Linked DNA regions of Homo sapiens. The protein of the gene in region 2 binds, or shares a complex with, the protein of the main gene of each other region. Each region holds a gene or a part of one and is shown on either strand. Other genes may lie near its edges.

Region 1 (7,470 bases), on a different chromosome or scaffold from region 2:
CTGACTCTCAAACCAACCAACCAACCAACCATATGTGTCTCTACCTCTCTCTCACACACACAATTGGATGTTTGACAGTGAGCAAGCCTCTTGACCTCTCTAGACCTCAGAGGCAAAATGAGAAGTGTCCTCCAGCTAGAAAGCATCACAAATTAAATGTTTTGCTTTAGGTTTTCTTCCCCAAACACTCCATATTCCTTATGTAAAAATAGAGCCATTACTACATTCCTATGATCGTATTTTAAATTATTGGGTAAGAAGTATCTCTTTATAAACCAAATTTTCATCTTAATCTTTGCCACTTCTGCCTCCTACCCCAAATTAAAATAAAAATAAATTCTACTACATTGCAGGAGATAGTTATAATGTAATGCTTAAGTGCTTGGGCTCTCAGCTAGATTTTTGGGTTCCACTTAAATTAGGCAAGTCACTGACTCGTTCAGTGCCTCAGTTCCTTTGTAAGAATAATGATACCTGTTTCACAGGATGGGTAGGAGGATGAAATAATACATTTAGCACAAGGCCTGGCCATAGTCAATGCTGAGTAATTATTTTTTATTTTTATTTTTTGAGACAGAGTCTTGTACTGTTGCCCAGGCTGGAGTGCAGTGGTGCGATCTCTGCTGACTGCAACATCTGCCTCCCAGGTTCAAGCGATTCTCCTGCCTTAGTCTTCTGAATAGCTGGGATTACAGGTGCCTGCCACCACGCCCAGCTTATTTTTTGTATTTTTAGTAGAGACAGGGTTTCACTATGTTGGCCAGGCTGGTCTTGAACTCCTGACCTCATGATCCACATGCCTCAGCCTCCCAAGGTGCTGGGATTACAGGTGTCAGCCACCATGCCGAGCAAGTAATTGTTATTTTTAAACTATTTCCATTTCTCCATTTGCATTCTCCATTTCTCCATCTTCAATATATGTATATGTGTGTATACATATATATGACAGAGGTTATATATGTATATGTTATAATCATATAACCTCAGACACAGGGTTTCACAGCTAGAAGGAATTTCTACATCAAGTACAAAACTCTTGTTACATCTGTGTCCTTTCTGTCAGATTCAGAGGGTTAGAGTGATTTGGTTAGTGACGGAAATGATACTTAAACATGAGATTCCTGGCTTGAGGCTGCATCGTTTTTACTTTTCTTCCATTTACTTTTATCTTATTTAAATAACTTCCTATAGAACAATTTCCTTTAAATATGAAATGTTCCATAGGTTTTTGGTTCTCAGTAAATTATGATATTACAATAATGCGGTTTATTCTCCTGATTGCTGATCTCTTCATAAATTAGGACGTGTATTCACTTAAAGCAGTCTATTTGATAATGAAAACCCAGTGATTTCTAAATAGGCAGTCAGAAGAATCTGCTTTATGAAACAGACAAACCCCTAACATTGGGCCTTTAAAATGTTCGGATATCAAGACCACGAATATATTATCTAAATTAGAGCCCCTGAGCAAGGACTCAAGCTCTATTTTATGCCCCATCCCTGACTCACAGTAAGATCCTGGGCAAGTCACTTGACCTTCTTATATTTCAGAGTGTCAAACTGTGAAAAGCATGTCCATAAAACTGTGCAAGCATGACCTCATTATAAACCCGATGAACTTGAAAGCAAAGATGTGCTTTGATACATTAAAGAATTACCAAAATAGAACTCTAGTTTGTAAAATATGAAGAATCAGGAAAATAAATTTTACTATACTAAGTAAAAGGATTCTGAAATGTACAGTTTTTAGCAAGTAAAGTCATAAAAAGTTTCAAAATGTTATATTTAGGTGAAATAAGGTTAATGACAGAGGAAAAATATTATTTTAGAGAATGCTTGGCTTTCAAAACCATAGATTGTAGCAACTTAACCAAAATAATCACAAGGAATGGAAGACTATCAGAAACGAGTAGATCCTTAATAATTAAACACATTTCTAGGCCATTATTTCCCCCTACTTATACAATGCATATCATGTTTTAAAATGTATTTCACTGGCTGGGAGCGGTGGCTCACACCTGTAATCCCAGCACTTTGGGAGGCCGAGGCAGGTGGATCACTTGAAGTCAGGAGTTCGAGACCAGCCTGGCCAACATGGTGAAACCCCATCTCTACTAAAAATACAAAAATTAGCCAGGCGTGGTGGCAGGCACCTGTACCTGTAATCCCAGCTACTCAGGGGGCTGAGGCAGGAGAATCGCTTGAACCCACAAGGCGAAGGTTGCAGTGAGCTGAGATTGCACCACTGCACTCCAGCCTGGGCAACAGAGTGAGGCTCTGTCTCAAAAAAAAAAGAAAAAATGTATTTCACTAACTACTATATGAAAAGCCCCAGAGAAAGAATACCAATACCCTTAGGAAAGAAGCAGTTTTAGTATTATTATTATTATTGGATGGAGTCTCGCTCTGTCACCAGGCTGGAATGCGATGGCGCTATCTTGGCTCACTGCAACCTCCGATGCCCTGGTTCAAGGGATTCTCCTGCCTCAGCCTACTGAAAGTAGCTGAGATTACAGGCACGCGCCACCACACCCAGCTAATTTTTGTATTTTTAGTAGAGACAAGGTTTCACTATGTTGGCCAGGATGGTCTCGATCTCCTGACCTTGTGATCCGCCTGCTTCGGCCTCCCCAAGTGCTGGGATTACAGGTGTGAGCCACCGCGCCCGGCCAAGATGCAGTTTTAATAAGGAGTTTGGCCATTTAGGCTTGTAACTGACTGGATTATTGCATATTCTTTAAAATTAATTTGTATTAGTCCCTTTTCTTCTATTTCCTTATCTCCAACTCTCGCATTAGTATGCACGCTTTATTCCTACTCAGGTTTTCCCCTATGAGCCCAGGAGTATTATTATTATTTTTTTGCAGGGATTAGGATCAGGTTTGTGAAGTGAATAGTGTCTTTCTAATCTGCAGAGGGAAGGCAGCATCCCCTGGCTTGCTGCTGCAGCCTCTCTTTAAATTAAACAGCAGGTTCACTCTTTCTGCGGCATTCCAGAAGGAACATCAGTAGGAACAGCTCCACAGATGCTGACGTCTTGTCTAAGGTTATCCCAAGAAGTCCTGTGGCATTTGCAATGTGCCTGTACATTTTTCCTTTTTTAAAAAACATATTCCTGCAGACTTTGTTGAAAGCAGAAACAAACACAAGCAAGCAAAGCCCTTTCTAGCACAGCATGTTAATCACACACTTTGCCATATTCTGTGAAACAGTAAGCAAATGATAACCTCCAACTGTTGCCCGGGCCCTGTAAAACAGAAGATCAAATTCTGTGTTCTGCCTTGGCAAGAAAAGAAACTGCAGCATTTTGTCTAGATTTTTACAAGTCCTGGGGTTCACATTACTGGCTGAAATTGTTCTTTCTCTACTTTACAGAAAAATGGAAAACACTAGTAAACTTAAAGATTTAAATATTATTTTAAAAGGAATATAATAAAAAATGGAAAACACTAGTATATTTAAAGATTTAAATAGTCTTTTAAAAGGAATATAATCAAAACTGTAGTTTAAAATACAATCTAGCTCCATAAGAGAGGCAATTGGCTGTGTGTTCCACTTGTAATGCAGAGGATTTGAAGCATCTATTTTTTCCCTTGTTTCTATGGATTTATGAATAAAGACTCTGACCCTTCTCAGGATCAGGAAAATTACGAAAAATTTAAAGCCTGGGTTTAAGGTCTGTAGAAGCTGCACAGGTACACTAATTTTAGTAAGACGGGCGCCAGGAAAAAGAACAAAATAGTAGGGGAGAAATATTCAGGCATCCTAAAAAATATTCAGTGGAAACGTAAAAACATTAAAGACTGATTAAACATCGCAGCATGACACAGATTTAGCAACTGAGCATAAATAATTTGACTCGGATACTGCTCCAAAATCCGAAGAGGACCAATTTCTTCCAGGAGGACAACTACCTCGTCCTCTGCAGACCCCTCTCCTCGGCAGCTGAAGGAGTGTGGCCAATCTGCCTCCACCTCCCCGCGGACCCCCTACTCTCAGGACCTCCTGCAGCACCCCAAACTGGAAGTGGCCGCTGCAGACCCAAGGACGAGGGGCACGCGGGAGCCGGCAGCCCTAGTGGAGCGGTTGGAGATGTTGAGGTGGGAGGGTCACCCAGGTGGGGTGAGGCTGGGGTAGGTAGCGGAGTGAACGGCTTCCGAAGCTCTGGGCCGCCCCCAGGTTGGACTAAGCAGGCGCTCTGTCTTCGCCCCCGCCCAGGGTGGGCGTCTCCTGAGGACTCCCCGCCACACCTGACCCGAGACCGCGCGCCCAGCCTAGAACGCTTCCCCGACCCAGCGTAGGGCCGCCGCGACTGGCGCGCAGGGGGCGGCGGGAGGCCTGGCGAACCCGGGGGCGGGACCAGGCGGGCAAGGCCCGGCTGCCGCAGCGCCGCTCTGCGCGAGGCGGCTCCGCCGCGGCGGAGGGATACGGCGCACCATATATATATCGCGGGGCGCAGACTCGCGCTCCGGCAGTGGTGCTGGGAGTGTCGTGGACGCCGTGCCGTTACTCGTAGTCAGGCGGCGGCGCAGGCGGCGGCGGCGGCATAGCGCACAGCGCGCCTTAGCAGCAGCAGCAGCAGCAGCGGCATCGGAGGTACCCCCGCCGTCGCAGCCCCCGCGCTGGTGCAGCCACCCTCGCTCCCTCTGCTCTTCCTCCCTTCGCTCGCACCATGGTAGGTCGGGAGTGGCAAATGCCGGCGTAGCAGCTGCCCGAGATTTCTTCCCAGATTTCTAGTTGTTTTGTTTGTTTTTTGTTTGTTTTTGGTTCTTGGAGGTTTTTCTTTTCTGAGTGTTACGCAGCAGCTGCGCTTAAAGGAGGTTGCATTTTGGATTTGCATCTCGGCGACCTCTGCCAGGGAGCTTCATTTATTGGTTCCCCTTGGAGCTGGACTTGGTCGTAGGCCGTCCACGGGCAGGGGCTCCGGCCGCAACTGCAGCGGGGGTTTCTGCATCCAATCCCCCTGCCCCCCGCCCAGCCCCGCACCCACTGCATCCACTAGCGCCGCACCCGGGCTGCCTGCAGCGCAGCGTTTCGGCCTGGGAGCCGGGCGGGGCCGGGCACTAGACCCCCCCCCCCGGCCCGCCCCTCCCCACCCCGCTTCTCCGCCGGCGCGAAGGTGGCAGGTCGGGCGGGCAGTGGAGAATGAATGGGCTGGAGCTGGCCGGTGGCGCACATTGTTCCGGCCGGGTGTTGAGGGGCGCAGTCAGCGCCCGCCACCTCCCCACTTTGGCCGGCCCTGCTGGGCGCCCTCCCTCGGTCGCTCTCCCCTCCTTCTTCCCGGGGGGCGCGGCGCGGGCGTGGGCTGGGAAGGAAGGAGCCGGGGAAGGGTGGGGTTGGGGGCAGGAAGGCGAGGGGTTGGGGGCGGAGAGGGCGGAAGCGGCGGCCGGGCCGCCCTGCGCCCGGGCGGGGCCCTGCGGTGTGGCCGTGGCTTGTTCCTGCCGCTTTCGCACCCTGCGGCCCCCCACCCAGTGCAGCAGTGCGGGCGGGCGTGAGCCTCGGTGCACCAGGAGGCACTTCCCGCGGGAGGCGCTGGGCTCGCGCTAATTGGGGCGGGGGGGGGGGGCGGCGGGGGAGGAGGGAACTGGCGCGCGGCTTGGTTTCCATTAGAGACGCAAAGTTTCTGCTCCGGGAGGAGGCGGCGGCGCCGCGGGCTCGTCGCCTGGGGGAGCAGAAGCGGGTGGGAGGTGCGGGTGGCCTTGGCCTCAGCCCTGGTGCGCGGGGGCCGGGGGTGGTGACCCTCCTGGCCGAGGAGGGGCGGCGTCCAGACGCCCGCTCGGGGGCCGCCTTCCCCCCCACGCCTGCCCCCGGGCACGCGCCCTGCCCGGTCCCTCGCCCCGCGCCACTTCCAGTCCGCAGAGAGATGCCCTCCACGTTTCTGCTTTCTCTGCAGCCTCTAGATTGCCAGATGCGACTGTGCGCCTCGCTGGGTGTGTTTTCCACAGCCCCTTCCTCCTCGGCGTGCAGGGCTGACATCACCGACTGCGTTTCTGGTTTGGCGGGTGGGGAGATGGTTCCCCGCAGGGTTCTGGTACACCTTTGCCCCCAGGGCTAGCGCCATTTGGGGGAGGAGGTTTTCGTTGTCGAGAAAGTTGGATGCTCCTGGTAACCCCTCTAACAAGAGAGTTCTGTAGCGAGGTGGGACTGTTCTCCCCATAAGGTGACAGTTTCTCTTGCGAGGTGTGGCAGCGCTTCCTGTTGTACAAGACAGATGTTGCCTTGGCGTTACGTAAATCATCGTGTCTCCGTCATTTAAAGAAAGCCAATTTTTAGTGATTGAGGTAGAAAGAAAGATCCGTTTATAATTTGTAAAAACAAATTTTCACCCAGAATCAATATATTGGAACACCATTCCTACTGTTAAAGTTTTCACTTAAGAGTATAAACTTCATCAGCTTTCTATTAGGACTTATTTTGTAATTGGCTTCTTAGGCATCCTTCTTTAAAAGAGAAATCCACGTTAGCTCTCCTTGAGGTCTCGAGTTCCCTCGGCTGGAGGCACAGGTTCAGTGGAGACCAAATAATGCAGGTGAATTACCTTCGTGGCCATTACTGCCTCCAACGAAGTGTGTTTATTAAGAACAGTTCTTATGTCATTCTTAAGGTAGGTAGGGTTAATACTCTCCAGCAAATTTAGTAGATACTCTTTGCCAGAAAAGAGAGGAGTATATATAGTTTGATAATTATTGTGTAGTTTTCTGTGTACTTAATTTTTGCAGTTTTGTAACACTTCATTTGTAAGATGGTACCATTTTTTCCTGGCTTCTGAATCATAGGATAGTTTGACCCAGGGCATTAGCCATTGTAATGGTAGGCTTTTAACAAATAACTGCCTAATTTAAAGGATTGGAAAGCATTTGTTACATGGAAATGAAGTTGGTGGCGTACCCAGTTGCTGTATCTTTATTTTTTCTACTTAATTATTTCTCATAAAATGGATATAAAAGCCTGTTAATCCAACCCAATGCCATTATGTAACGCCAGTTTGGAGATTTCGAGGGCCTGGAGCAGTGCGCAAGGTGCGCTGAAAGCCTGCCCCTGGATGAGATCCTTATCCTGGCTGTGATGGCAGTGGCAGTGGGCTGGGTCCCTTGTTGAGTGGAAAGGGGGACTGCGGTGTCCATGGTGCAGTAGGTGGCGCTCTTCTGTCTTAGAGCCTGCCGCCACTGCAGCTGGTGCCAAGGGGCCTTCTGCCACTAGAGGTGCCATTTTTCACATGATGAACTTAGCCTAGTTAGATCGCAGAGCAAGCTGTAAGCCATGGGCCCAGAAAAGAAAACTTGAAGTGAGCAGATGTTGTCACTTCCTTGTAATCCTTTGTTAAAATAGCATAAGGAGTTTTCTTTATTCTATTTACTTTCATTAAATGACCGTGCTACAGGTTTCAAAGGATTTTAAGATTGATTTTTGAAAGATCACAATATTAAAAGTATAACTGGAAAACCTATGTTGAAATCAACCAAACATGTC
Region 2 (6,846 bases):
GACTGAGAGTGCAAAAATTACACCACTAAAGAAACACGGAGGCTGGGCGTGGTGGCTCACGCCTGTAATCCCAGCACTTTGGGAGGCCAAGGCGGGTGGATCACCTGAGGTCAGGAGTTCAAGACCAGCCTGACCAACATGATGAAACCCGATCTCTACTAAAAATACAAAAATTGGATGGGTGTGGTGGCAGGCGCCTGTAATCCCAGCTACTTGGGAGGCTGAGGCAGGAGAACTGCTTGAATCTGGGAGGTGGAAGTTGCAGTGAGCCGAGATCACGCCACTGCACTCCAACCTGGTGACAGAGTGAGACTCCAGCTAAAAAAAAAAAAAAAAAAAAAAGAAAGAAATAAAGAAAAAGAAAGAAAGAAAGAAATGCTGAAAGAAATGGGATTCTTTGGCCCAAAAAAGGCAAAGGTAAGAAAAGAACTAATAGCAAGGGTGCCAAACACTGTATTTACTGATAGGTCAAAGTCTTACTGATGACAATAATGACAGTCTGAACTAATATTCCACAAAATATGTATCTAATGAGTTAAATGTGATTCGTGAGACTGCTATTCCTGTCTTAGGCCATAAACTAGACCCTTGAAAGAGAATCACTTGTCGAATATTGTACTATAAGTCTTCAACAGATGTATTTAGGTATGTTCCTTTTTCATTAGGTATGTTCTATTTACTGACATTAACATAAGTTACTAGGAAAGGTGTGCTACTAGTGTGCTGAGGTTCAGCAATATTCAAGTAACTAAAAGGTAATATAAGTTTCATAACCACACACCTTTGCACAGCACCAAATGGGGGGAAATGGGCTTAAATTACAGAATATATGTTACATTCAAGAATGTTCCAAATATGAGATTTTAATTACTCTAACAGAGCACTGGGGGTGAAGGAATTTTCTTCCCAGGACACTTCAATTAGAATGCTCGTCTGGAACTATCTGTATGCTTTCTTAGACCAAGGAGAATGGGTCTGAAACACTCTTCCATGGCTGTGATTCTCTAACTAACCCTCCCAGTTTTCAAGAGTAAGAGAGCTTGCAGCCATTGCTCACTTTTGTTTTGTCTTGAAGGTGGTCAATGTACACAGGACTACAGTTTAAGATAAACTTTAATATCCCAAATTGAAAACTGATTATAACTTTAATTACGAGTTCTTAAAATTACAGAGATAAGGATACATTTCGATTAAGCAGACGAAGTGGGGAAAAGAGGCATAGCTTCCTACTTCTGTGTCCCTTTCAATGAGGCTAGGTACCTCATTATTTCAAAATGCCCAACACTTGAACACTGTAAGTACTCAACAAATGCTTTGCGAAGAAAATATAGTATATTTCATATTAGTTTTGTAACTTTTAAAATACAGAATCGTTGAACACAGAATGTTGAGTCAATTTCAACGTCGCAATTAGTAATGCGAATTTTGAAACTTGTTCTAAATACAATTTTAATCAATCTGAGTTTTTCAGCCTTGAAATTCTAAGGTCCGTATTTCCCAAAGAATATCCTTCCCATAGTGCTAAGCACACACTAAACTGACTCACTAAACTTTCTCCACTCCTACATCACCTATACAGGATTTTAAAATCCGGAGTACACAAACTTTCAAGCCACTTCTACAATCTTGTATTAACCTTAGCAGGACAAACTTTTCGCCAAGACTCTTAACACTTTTTATCCAAAAACCTGTAGTAGTGAAACAAAGAAAACACAACCCCCTCCTCCTTTTCTAAACCATATGGCAATAAATTAAAGTTAACTTATTTCTTACCAGCTCAAAGCCTATACATCGACCCTAAACATTTGTCTCTTTGTGCCCTGGGACTGGGCTTAGAGCTGTCTGCTTATTTGCAACTGTACTCCAATCGTGTTTTAAAATGGCAAAACAAGGTCCAAAACGACCCCCGACCATGAACAGACCTCACCATCGTCATTTTCCAAAACCTGGTCTGGTAGGCAGCACATGCCGGCGAGGGCACCAGGGCCGCGGGGAGCGAGCCCTGCTCCGCCTGGGTGACTGAGCAGGGAGTTTGCTTGCTGCGGCGGGGTCGGATCCACCCCGGGAACTTGGTTACCCGAGCCCAGGGACGCGCCGAGGCCTAGCCGCGAGGCCGGGGCGGGCTCCAGGCGGCGAGGGCTTCCCGTCCCTTGGCCGCAGAGCCTTCCCGCCAGCCCCGCGGTCGCCCGCAGGCGGGGACACTCGCCGTCGTCTCCCGGCGACCGGACGCGCCTGCCGGGTCCCGGGCCGGCTCTTTTGCCTCCTGCTGCCGCCCGCGGCCCGGCTCTGCGACCACACCGGGCTCTTCCGGGGCGGCGGGAGCGCTAGGCCGCGCTGGGGCCCGCGGCTCCTGAACCGGCCGGGCGGGCCTTGGCGTCCGGTATCAGTCCCGAAGGCCGAGCTCCCGCCGGTAACGGGCCCCGCCGCCTCCCCTCCCCCTCCGCCCCATGACAGTGCAAACCCTCCGGCCGCCCGGGCCGCCCCGCCTCCAGCACCAGGCCCAGCTAAGGGCCGCGGCCGTGGCGGCAGCGGCGCCGCGGCTCTCCGCCCTCGCTCGCTCGCTCCCGGGTCCAGCGCCTCGGGCCCGGCTCGGGCTCGGCCAAAGTCTCCGCCGCTTCCCGGCCGCCCTCCGCCGCGCCCGGCCCGGGCGGGGTAGGCCGAGGCCCGGGAGGTGCGGGTGGGGGCGGGGGCTCCTCTCACCTTCATGTCGGGACATCCTAGTTCAGACGGTGGCGGCGCGGCCCCTCCCGGGCTCCGGCTGCAGTGTCCCCCGCGGGGTCCCGGCGCTGCCCGCGCCGGCCGGCCGACTCCCACTCGACTCCCGGGCTCGGCCGCGGGGGCGGGGTGGGCAGGGGAGCGCTCCCGCGGCGGCGGCGGCGGCGGCGGCGGGGAGGCGGCGCGGGGCGGGAATGGGGCCGGGCCTGGTCGGGGCTGAGCTCCTCCAGGAGGCGGGTCCGACGCCGCAGCTCCGCCGGCGCCCGCCGTGACTCCGGTCACTCTCGGGCCTGCCGGCTCCCGGCAGCGGCGCGGCGCTCCGCAAATCCCGCTCCTCCCCTCCCCCGGCCCACCCCCCGCCCCTCTCCCCCGGCTCCCGGCCGCCGCCTCCTCCTCCTCCTCTTCCTCCTCCTCCGCCTCCTTCCGCCGCCCGCACGCCAGCCCCGCCTCTCGCTGCCCTCGCCGGGCCCAGCCGCCCGGAGGCCCCGCGGCCGGCGGTCGCGACGGGGGCGACGCGGCGACGGCGGCTCGGGGCGCGGCGCTTGCCCGCGCTAGCCAGCAGGCCGCGATCGGGCGCCCGTGCCCAGCCTCGGCCTGGCCGCCGCCGCCGCCGCCGCGCCGCGCGTAGGGAGGAAGAGGAAATGCCCGGCGCCGGCTCCCGCTGCTCACCGGCGCGGCCCGAGGGGCGCCCGCCCGCCACGCCGCCCCTAGCCCCGCCTGGGGCGGGCCTAGGCCGGGCTATAGGGGCCAGGGCCTTGGGCTGCGCCGGCCGCGGGAGGTGGGTGCTTCTCGGCGGCGAGCTGCGACTCGGAGAGACTCCTGTCCGCAGGTGCATGGCTTCCGGGCGGGCCTCGGGCAGCGAGCTCCAGCCCCACTGAGAGGCCGCGGACCGCCTGGGGACTTGTGTTTGTGTGTATTTTAAGCCAACAGCCCAGAAAGGGAAGGCGACTGGCCCCCGGTCTTCGCCAGTGTTTCCCGGCCGGGTTACTGGTGGTCAGGAGGGAAGCCAGGAGGCTGCCGGGCTCCGAGGCCGATTCCTTGCGAACCATCTCCGTTAAAGACTCCGCGCCGGGCAGCCCGGGAGTCCGGCGGTACCCGCGCAAACTTTGTCCCAGCGCCTTGGCTCACCGTGAATGCCCTGCCTTGAAAATTTGGAGTTTTTTGTTTCCTGAAAGTGGTCTGCTTTTCCGATTTTATCTGTGTTTTCCATTTTTACCTTCTTATTGTCAATTTGTTTTCAGGCATTATTAATTCAACAAATCTTTGTACTGCCCCTTACCACGTGTCGATGGTTCCGTGGTTTGGTGGAAATAGATCGCGCTTTGAAGTCAAGACGGATCGGCCATGGAATTTTGGCTCTGAGATCCTCTGTGTAACCGTGGATGAGCTACAAGGCCTGCTGAGCCTCCATTTGTCTGGTTTTTGTGGTTGTTTTAATTTATCTTTTTCCATTTGAAGTTGTGGGTTTTGCATAAAATTGAACTGTTACCAGGCTAAGTCAACTGAAATTGGAATCTGGGGTACTGCTTGCTTTGAGGTTACTCTTATACTGTCCACCATTTGCTGGCTGTGTGATCTCTAAACCTCTCTGTGCCCTGACTTTTCTATCTTTAAAATGGACGTAACAACAGAGGTTTAATAATAAGAGGTTTGGAGGTTAAGTGCTAAAATGCATATAAAATACCTAGCACAGGACACAGTAAAAAGATTGTTACCGTATTTCATTGAATCTGGTTTTAAGACACTTCCTGATTTCAAAGAAACTAAAAGCTCATCTTGAAGTCCAGGAAGTAGGTTTTGGGTCACTCAGAACTCCCAAGGGACTGTATTTGGTAGTAACTAGTGATAAACAAACTGGAGTTTAAATGAGGACTTTGTCACCAGAGATATTTTTATTGCCTGTATGGAGCTCCTGCACAAATTTATTCCATTTCTCTTGTAGAAAGAGATCCAACCTGGCCGTAAATGGGGTGTGGTGGAGTAGAAAGAAGGGTATTAAGTAAAGCTCTGTGTCGATGCCTTTCTGAGCATTTTACGGTGTTGGCATATGTGATCCTGGGTATCAGGAGCCTCAATTTCTTGGGCTGTAAAAATGGGGAGAACAACGCTGATCCCATTGTCTCCTGATGGGTAAGTGATGTCTATAAATAAATTGTATAGAGATTAAGGCATTATCAGTGCTGTAGTCTGATAAAATGGTGGAGCAGATAGGAAAGCCTACAACAGTACTGAACTGCAGGAGGGACTAAGAGTAAATATAGAGATTTCATTTGCTTGGTTTTGCAGAGGGTTAGCTAACTAAACAGATAACTTTGTTTTCGACAGTTACTTCATTTTTTTCAGTCAGGCAAGAGTAAGGAGAGAGTAACTAAACCATTTTTTTTCCTCTTTAAATAAGAGTAAGCAGAAATATTATGGTTATTTGGGGTTTTCATGACCTTCATTCACTTAGCGGTCAGGCTGTTCAATTTAAAACAACCTTTTGCTTGCTGCCCTGCCATATGGGAAATTTCATTTCCAAAAAAAGGATTAATTTCCAGCCTGGGCGAAACCCTATCTCTACGGAAAATATAAAAATTAGCGGCCAGGAGCAGTGGCTCATACCTGTAATCCCAGCACTTTGGGAGGCCGAGGCAGGTGGATCACGAGGTCAGGAGTTCAAGATCAGCCTGGCCAAGATGGTGAAACCCCATCTCTACTAAAAATACAAAAATTAGCCTGATGTGGTGGCACGCGCCTGTAATCCCAGCTACTTGGGAGGCTGAGGCAGAGAACTGCTTGAACCTGGGAGCATTCCAGCCTGGATGACAGAGTGAGACTCCGTCTCAAAAAAAAAAAAAAAATTAGCTGGGCGTGGTGGCATCCGCCTTTGGTCCCAAATACTCAGGAGGCTGAGGTGGGAGGATTGCTTGAGCCCAGGAGGTCGAGTCTGCAGTGAGCCGTGATTGTACCACCACATCCTAGTCTGAGTGACAGTGTGACACTCTGTCTCAAAAAAGAAAAGAAGATCAAGAAGGATTAATTTAAATCCTTATACCAAATTGTCTACCAAATGATTTTTGTTCCACTCCAGAAATGTTTTCCTCCAGTCCCTTCCTCTCTCTGCACCCTCCTGAGTTCTCCTTTCTTCTGTGGACAACTGTAACTAATGCGTGTTTTTGCTAGGCTGACCCTTCTTTCATACTATGGCCCAATTATGTTTTTTCAAATAAGCTAATGGATGTAAGCACTGGTGAAATCTGAATAAGGTCTGTAGTCTACTTGATAGTATTGTACCAATGTCAGTTTCCTGGCTTTTGATATTTTTCCATAGCTTTGTAAGATGTTCCCATTTGAGAAAGTGTACCTGGGCCCTCTTTGCAACTACCTATGGGTAAATGATTATTTCAAAGTAAAAAATTAAAGTATAGGGACAGAAATTAGATCAATGGTTACTGGCAACTGGAGCTGGGGAAGGGTGGACTGATCACACTTTTTGAGATGATGAGAATATTCTCTAACTTGATTGTGGTATTTACATTACTGGATGACTCTGTGAATCTGTCAAAACTCATAGAACTATACACCTAAAAGGGTGGTTTTTTTTTTTTTTTTTTTTTTTAGATGAAGTCTCGCTCTTGTCCCCCAGGCTGGAGTGCAATGGTGTGATCTCGGCTCATTGCAACCTCCGCCTCCCGGATTCAAGCGATTCTCCTGCCTCAGCCTCCCAAGTAGCTGGGATTACAGGTGCATACCACCACGCCCGGCTAATTTTTTGTATTTTAAGTAGAGGCGGGGTTTCACCATGTTGGCCAGGCTGGTCTCGAACTCCTGACCTCAAGTGATCTACCCGCCTCGGCCACCCAAAGTGCTGGGATTACAGGCGTGAGCCTCCGCACCCAGCCAAAGGGTGGTTTTTACTTCTATATAAATTATACTTCAGTAAACCTGAATTAAGATAAGGAAAGCAAGCTCTTGGCCGGGTGCAGTGGCTCACGCCTGTAACCCCAGCACTTTGGGAGGCGGAGATGGGCGGATCACGAGGTCAAGAGATCGAGAGCATCCTGGCTAAATGGTGAAACCCTGTCTCTACTAAAAATACAAAAAAATTAGCCAGGCGTGGTGGTGGGCATCTGTAGTCCCAGCTACTTG

Evidence for each region.
Region 1: KCMF1 (region 2) and CALM1 share a complex: the UniProt entries of both Homo sapiens proteins name them as parts of the SIFI complex.

What each region holds. Positions count from the first base shown.
Region 1 is NC_000014.9:90,392,559-90,400,028, forward strand, and holds the start of CALM1 (calmodulin-1), read left to right. Parts: upstream 1-4,470; 5' UTR 4,471-4,672; coding exon 4,673-4,675; intron 4,676-5,608; exon of another isoform or gene 5,609-6,523; coding exon of another isoform or gene 6,524-6,529; intron 6,530-7,470. UniProt on the Homo sapiens protein: Calmodulin acts as part of a calcium signal transduction pathway by mediating the control of a large number of enzymes, ion channels, aquaporins and other proteins through calcium-binding. Calcium-binding is required for the activation of calmodulin.
Region 2 is NC_000002.12:84,967,322-84,974,167, reverse strand, and holds the start of KCMF1 (E3 ubiquitin-protein ligase KCMF1), read right to left. Parts: upstream 3,008-6,846; 5' UTR 2,717-3,007; coding exon 2,701-2,716; intron 2,318-2,700; exon of another isoform or gene 1,968-2,317; coding exon of another isoform or gene 1,928-1,967; intron 1-1,927. UniProt on the Homo sapiens protein: E3 ubiquitin-protein ligase which accepts ubiquitin from an E2 ubiquitin-conjugating enzyme and then transfers it to targeted substrates, promoting their degradation by the proteasome.